Linked DNA regions of Homo sapiens. The protein of the gene in region 1 interacts with the protein of each later gene in a biochemical or structural test. Each region holds a gene or a part of one and is shown on either strand. Other genes may lie near its edges.

The links. Proteins that work in one complex are often made in the same cells at the same time.
Region 2: the proteins of RASSF6 (region 1) and SHANK2 interact in a test that uses a peptide from one of them, tested with the Homo sapiens proteins (one large-scale study listed by IntAct).

Annotation. Positions count from the first base shown.
Region 1 is NC_000004.12:73,613,882-73,617,532, reverse strand, and holds part of RASSF6 (ras association domain-containing protein 6), read left to right. Parts: intron 1-1,596; coding exon of another isoform or gene 1,597-1,642; intron 1,643-3,651.
Region 2 is NC_000011.10:70,479,575-70,483,225, forward strand, and holds part of SHANK2 (SH3 and multiple ankyrin repeat domains protein 2), read right to left. Parts: intron 1-3,651. UniProt on the Homo sapiens protein: Seems to be an adapter protein in the postsynaptic density (PSD) of excitatory synapses that interconnects receptors of the postsynaptic membrane including NMDA-type and metabotropic glutamate receptors, and the actin-based cytoskeleton.

The DNA.
Region 1 (3,651 bases):
TGTGACGTCAGCCTAAGAATTTCTACTGGGAAGCTCAGGTGAAGCAGAAAATTTTTGAGTTCCACCACACCAGTAATTCCAGAAGATGCTGTCGGCAGACTGAGCAGCGCCTCCCAGACCCAGTGGTGGCAAGATGCCTTAAGTGCCTTAATACAAATTTGCTTCTCTGACCGTTTCTGCTTTCTTTATCTCCCTGAGGGCACCTTGAGCAGAATAAAATGCATGGCATTAGTACCATGTAAATATGCAATAGAACAGTAAAGTTTTGGCATTTCCAATTAGATTCCACTTGAACTGAGGGCAGTGGCATGCTCACATAGAAGTGTGTTTGATTCATATTCTGCTTAGTCCTCTCTTAGATTCAATGATTATAATACATTATTTCTATCTCAAAACCAACAATCACTGACTGCAACCAATATTACTTAATTAAGTGATAGTTTGTATATATGCCAACTCTTGACCTTTACTGTCTCTGCAAATAAAGCACATTTTAAGAAAAAGTATGGAGCCAAATGTTTCCCAGAAACCATCACTCTGTTAACTCTTTTCCTTTTTTGAGAGAACTAGATACTGGATGGAATTATAGATGCTTTGTCTCATTTTCTTGAAGTGATGTAATTGCATATAACTCTGCTCTTCTCTACTCCAAGGTTCCAGGTCATAACTTTGAGAAAACAGTTTCGTTTTGGAGATGAATACATAATTGTAACTTTCTATTGCTTCTTCAAGCTGAAACAATATTTTATTAAAAAGACTCTCCGTGTGTACAGCCCTTAACATACTCTTATCTCATAATTGAAATACACACTTGCTATTCTAGTGTGATACTTTCTGTTCTTTTTTTAAGTAGCTTTTACTGGGGACGTGGGTGAGAGAGATGTAACATATATTCCTTGTCTATGATTTAGACAGTACATACAAAATAAAAAAAGAAATAATTATCACACATAATCTCTTAGCTCTTAATTTTACCATTAATATTATAATATACCTCTCTGTATGTTGGATGTATTCAATATTTTGTGTATGTTTTATCTATATGCCTGCATATATTCACTCACTTTAGAAGACACAAAAATGAAATAGCAATAATTCTGTCCTAAAGGACCTAGTAATCAAATTAAGTAAAATAAAATATGGTTAGAGAGAGAAAGCAGTAAGTAATTAGAAAGCTACAGAAAATTTCCTGTGAAATTTCAGAAGCAAGAGAAATTGTCTTTGGCTGGGAAATACAGGGAAGTTAGCACCTGTATATATATGTATAGATAGATAGATAGATAGATAGATAGATAGATAGATAGATAGATATAGATATATGTATATATATTAGTTCTTTGTAAAATCATTAGCATTATGACACTTTGTGCACCTTGTGGCCTCAGAAATAAGAGGCTATAGATATAGATACAGGCTATACTTTCTGTGCCTAGCACGGTAGCAGGTGCAGAGAAGGAACTCGTGAAATATTTGTTGAATTTACAAACGAGTGAACCCAATTTTCCACTTTTAGATATGTAACCATTTAATTAACTCATGGTTGGATAACAGGAAGTTACTTTAAATGACTGACCCATTTGATTTAATTTGTACTAGAATTCACTTCCTGTCCTCTGGCCTCATTCTGGTCACAAGGCAACTGGTAAGTCCAGGCAAGCCCACCTCTAGGCAGGAATGCAGAGCAGGGGGAGGTGAACCACGTTCCAGCATTGCTGGAACGCTAATGCTGCCCAACACTGCCTCCTCAGGCTCCATCCAGATCTCATTGGCTTGTTCAGACCAATTCTACCTCTCCTATACTTCTAGTGCTGTTGATTTCTCCAGGACTTAATTGCTGACCTATCTAATTCCCTGTTTCTCCAGCTTCATTGTTTCTGGACAAAATGAAAAAGTAAATAACCAAACTTATTAAATAATGATCTTATTTTACACACAATCTAAGTCAATAATCTCTGGCCCCAGGGCCTACATAGATTTGTAACAACCATCTTCCTCCTCAAGTTGTAGTTTATTATGTTCTACCAAAATTACTGAACATCCCAAGTAAGACCTCCAGGCTTCTAGAACTGTAATTTTTTCTTTCTTCATAAATTCTCTCCCTCGTTGCTATTCATGACTTCTCTGTTATTCTCCTCTTAAGTCCTTGAGAAAATTTGCTCAGATGCTTATATCTACCAAGTCTTTATAATTTAGGAGATTTTCACAAGGGCCCTAGCAGGTTTTAGTTTGCTATGAATCATGGTGAATGGGAATGGGAAGATGAGGATGAAAAACTATTTGAATTCATAGATCTATGCCTCACTTCATTGTTTTTGTTTGTTTATTTGTTTTGCTCTTTTTTTTTTTTTTTTTTTGAGACAGAGTCACACTCTATCACCCAGGCTGGAGTGCAGGGACACAATCTTGGCTCACTGCAACCTCCATCTCCCAGGTTTAAGTGATTCTCGGGCCTCAGCCTCCCAGGTAGCTGGGATTAAAAGTGTGTTCCACCACACCCGGCTAACTTTTGTATTTCACTTCACTGTTAATACTAACAATGGGACTTTTACCAAAGCATGTTCTTACCTTTCAGGTATTTAAACTGTTTGAATATTTTATTTACCCAATTTTTAGATCAGACATGAATAATATTATTTCCTACTCAAATATTATGTGCTGCCTATGAATGAAAATTTTATCCTGTTTTTATTTTCTTACATTAAATTATATTCAACTTTCTTCCTTCCTAAAGTCAGAAAATAATATAAGAGCCTTGGAAACCCTTTCATCACATCTTCTGAAGTCTTCTGAAGCTGGCTATGAGTTACCTCAGCATAGATCAACAGTGTGTCACTATAACTACATTGCAATTATTTGCCCTCTTTAATGATATCTTTGATATTTCTTATGAATGCAAATAAAGAGTGAGCCAGTTGGAAAGCTACTGCAATGATTTTTCAGTCCATCACTGCCAATTTTCACTTTGTAATTATAAGAAGCTGCTATCAGTGGTTCTTCAGTTCCAAATATCCCCAGTGTCTGGTGAGGGAAGCAAGCTGTCTGGTTCTTAGATGGTCTTTTTGCTATGCTCTGACATGGTGGAAGGGTCCAGGCAGCTTCTGGGGTCTCTTTTATAAGGGCACTAACCACATTCATGAAGTCTCCACCATCATGAACTAATCACCTCCTAAAGTCCTCACCTGTTAATACTATTGCATTGGGGGTTAAGTTTCAACATCTAGGTTTTGTGGGGACACAAACATTCAGACCACAACAGAGGGAGGCCCTCTAGTAGGCTGACGCAATAATCCAGGAAAAAGATGATGGTGGCTTGGCTTAGGGTAGTAGCAGTGGAAATCAAAGCTTTCGAATTTGGAATATGTTAGTGGTACAGTGAATAGGACTTACTTTTGGATTGAATTTGGCTTATGATGAAAGAGGGAAAAAATGAGACTAAATATTAGTTTTGATGCCTAGATGGGAAAGAATTGTGGAGGAGGAAATTTTAGAGCATGGGAGAAAGTCAGTGGTTCTTTTTCAGCCATGTAGATATCGAGATGCCTGGTACACATCTAAGTAGAGATTAGGTAGGTGGTGACATGCGTCTGGAGCTCAACAGAGATTATGGGATGGAGACAGATTCGATTACCTGGAAGAATGTATAGATAGAGA
Region 2 (3,651 bases), on another chromosome or scaffold:
CCTTCTGGACCCCACCCACTGCAAAGGGCTGGCGACCTAGAGGGGACTCTGGGGAACTCTTATAGGCCATGCACCCTAACAGAAGCCATGGGGGACCCCCACAAGCACACACTCACTGCTCTGTTGCCCCCACATACAGAGCAAATGTGAAGCTGACCTCTGCCATGGAAGCGATGGTAAAGAACATCAGATTTATCTGGCTTTACTATCGGCGCCTGGTATGTGTCAGTATCTCTCAATAAAGCTGGAGGGCACATGACACCTGGGGCTCCTGGGTCATAGCAAGTTTGTTTTGGGTCAAAGCATATAAGTCAGGCAAGCTGCTGTGTTCTCCTGGGTTCCTTAGGCACTTAGCCCTTGAGTCTCCCTGCTTGTCTCCAGAATGCAGGCCCTACACTCCCACAGCAGCCTCCCTGTGCCACCAGTGCATTCACCTGATCACACAGCTGCCTGGGCCATCTTCAGGAAACAAAGTCTGGTCATGCCAAGACTTTGCTGAAGCCCTCTGAAGGCAGCCATATCTGGAACTCCATTCAGCTCATGCCCATTACCTGCAAGCCTCTTGTGACCTGGCCCTGCCCAGCCCTCCTCATCTGGCCATGGTTTCATGAGCACAGAAGGCACTTTCTGGCCTCAGGGCCTTGTACTCTCTGTCCCGTGCCTGGGATGCTCCACTCCTGGTTTTCTGCAAGGTTGGCTCCTTTTTAAATTTCTGGTCATTCAAATGTCATTTCCTTGCAGAGTGTCAGTCCCTTTCTGCACATGCTCACTGTAACCTGCTAGGGCATCCTAGTCCGCCCTTTCTGCATGTGGTCAGGGTTAACCTGCTGGTGTCCCGTGGCTCTCTTCTGCACGTGGTTATTTTTACCTGCTGGTGCATCACAGCCCCTTTCTGCACTGGTCACTAACCTATTAGCATGTTGTGGCTCCTTTGTGGCATTTGTCACAGTTTGGGTTTGTCTTATTATTTGTTGTCCATTTCTCCCCTCGAGAATTTGAGCTCCCCAAAGGGAGGGGCATCTGGAATGTTTTCTTGTTCAGTGATAAATCCTGGGCACAGCATGGCACCTGGCACATAAAGGCAATCCCTAACTTTGTTGAGTGAATGATTAGTGACGGAATTGCTGCCCCATTCTGAGGGTCCAGGCATCCTTGTTGGTGTATTCCTCGTTACTCTCTAGCCTCAGCCTGGCACTAGGCTTATAGAAAGTAGCTCAGTGAACTCCTGACTGGTGAATTCAGGAGACAGTGGGGCTGGGCCATGATTCCAAGTCTGAGTGTCCAGTCAGTCTCCTAGGCCTGCACCTGAGGAGCTTCCGGCTCTGAGCTTTTGCAGCCCCAGGCTCCTGTGCTGGGACCCCCAGCGTGCAGCACTGTCAGGCCTCTGGGCTGGCAGCTGTTGTCTTGGCATTCTGCTGAGGAGGGACCACTGACTCTTCACAGAGACACACTCACTCTTCCTTCCCCAAACCAGTTTCCTTCACTTTGATCCAGTTTGAGATCAAAGATGAGACTACCTCCTGGAATAATCAGGCCAGGTGGTCCTGGAACACTTTTCTTAGAACTGACGCCTCCATTCTTGGCAGGGTGTTTTCAGATCACCCTGGGAGATGCCTCTAATATGATGTACTTTTTTCTCTTTTAACATTATGTACTAAAGAGAACTACTTCATCATCTTCCTTTCGTCGGCGTATTTGTAATTAAGACGCCTGCAAATTCCATGTCATCCTTGATTTCAGGGAAGAGCTTTGAGCATCAGAGACTCATTCACGGCTAAAGTTAAATCAAACATACCCAAGGAAAACAAGGATCTAGTTGTTTAATCTTCAGCTGCTTCCTTTGATCCCATCCTGGATTCTTGCAAGAAGTGAAAAGAAAGGAAGAATCCAAGGATGAGAGGAACTTTAAAAGGGTCAAGTTCAGCTGAGGTTTCTGCCCATTTCATGAATGAACATTTGAGGAACAGCTCTAAAAATTGTCCCTTTCTTGGGCAGTCAAAACTTGTTTCTATGGAAATGGGATTTTTACACCACTGCTTATCTGTCATTTCAAAAAGCATGGCTGGTTTTCAATTTTCCCTAGAAAAACTCATTTCTTTTTCCTCGGTAGGAATTCCCTTCATCCAATTTCGTGCCTCATTTTGCCCAGGGCCATTCACAGCTCTTAATTTTTAGATGCATTTAAAGGTGGTGGTGAGTCGCCCAGGCGGTGAACTCAGGTGAGAGTTCTTAAGGCTCCCTCTGATCCTCAGATGATCAAATGCCCAGGGCCCATCAGTGAAGACCACGCCCAGCAAAGGAGACATGCTGAGAGATAGGTCTGTGGCTGAGAGGAGACAGCCCTCACGGCAAGGGGGACAGCTCTGGTGCCCTGGCAACTCCGTCCTGGACCCCCCCCCAGTGGTGGTTCTGACTGCCCCCCACTTGTCCTTGTCAGTGTGTCCCGTGGCCGTGGCGCACCTCCATGGGGGCTTTGTCCCAAGTGCTCAGCCTGGTGAGGTTATTAGATCCGAGAAGCAAGGGCGAGGGAGAGGATTGAGCCTAGTTTAGTGCCTACAGTGAATGCTCTTCATCTTTGTCCTCTGGCCTCAGGCCATCCTGTTTCTAGTCCAACTCTGAGTGTAAAGTGTAACCCTTGGCCGGGAGCAAGAAGGGAACAGACATGGCCTCTGGGAGCTTGGCAGTGCCAGTGAACCCCTAGTGACTAAGCCTGCTGTTATCGGCCGCAGGGTGACCTCCTAGTGACTAAGCCTGCTATTAGCCTCTTGCTGACCAAAGAGCTTGGCCTAAGGACAGTCAGAGGCCTGAGAGCAGCCCCGCCCGCGGCAGTCTCAGCCTTGCAGGTGTTCGGTTTGCCAGTTGGTCATTCCTTCCAAGGCAGTCCCTGGCTCCCACAAGGTGAGGAGTCAAACCCTGAGCCAGCTCCATGGGTTGGAGGTCTAGTTCCGCGTCTTCCTGTGAAGTAGCCTCGGCTCAGTAGCTTCACCGCCCTGCCTTCTGCTTCCTTGTTCACACAGTGGGAAAAATTACAGGCCCTGGCTCAGGGGTGCCGTGGAATGTAGTGCCTGGCGTTTGGTGAATGCTTTGTGTCATAGGTGTGGGCTCCTGTTCTTACTGTAAGAGAGCCGGGCTATAAATAACAGGACAGCTGGGAGGCGGCCGTTCTTGGCACTCACGCGTGGGTCGGCGGTGGTATGCAGCTGCTCTCCTTCAGAGTACAGCAGGATTCTGCCCTATGAAGTCTGCTTTGAGCCAGCCCCCTCTCAGGGTCCCCCTGGAGAAATGCAGGGCAGAGAAACCCTAGAGACGCTGCAAGTTGGGGTCCCACTCCCCTGTGGGCACCCCAGGAGCTGGCCCAGCCTGAAGACGAGTAGAGGGGATGAGCTGTCCAGCTGCCACTCAGGGAGAGGTCTCCATGGACGGGGTCCCTGGACTCCCCGAGTGGAGTGCTCAGGGGAGCACAGCTTGGTGCAGGATGCCCTGCTGACCTGAACAGTGGATTCCTTCCTCCAGCCCTAGAGCCATTCCCTTCCAGCTCCTTCCTTACTGCAGACATTGCTTACAAGGGGAAGTGAGAGTCAGGAAACCCCAGCCTGTGTCCCAGCTCTGCCTCCTGCTGGCTGTGTATGTGGACAAGCCACTTATCCTCTG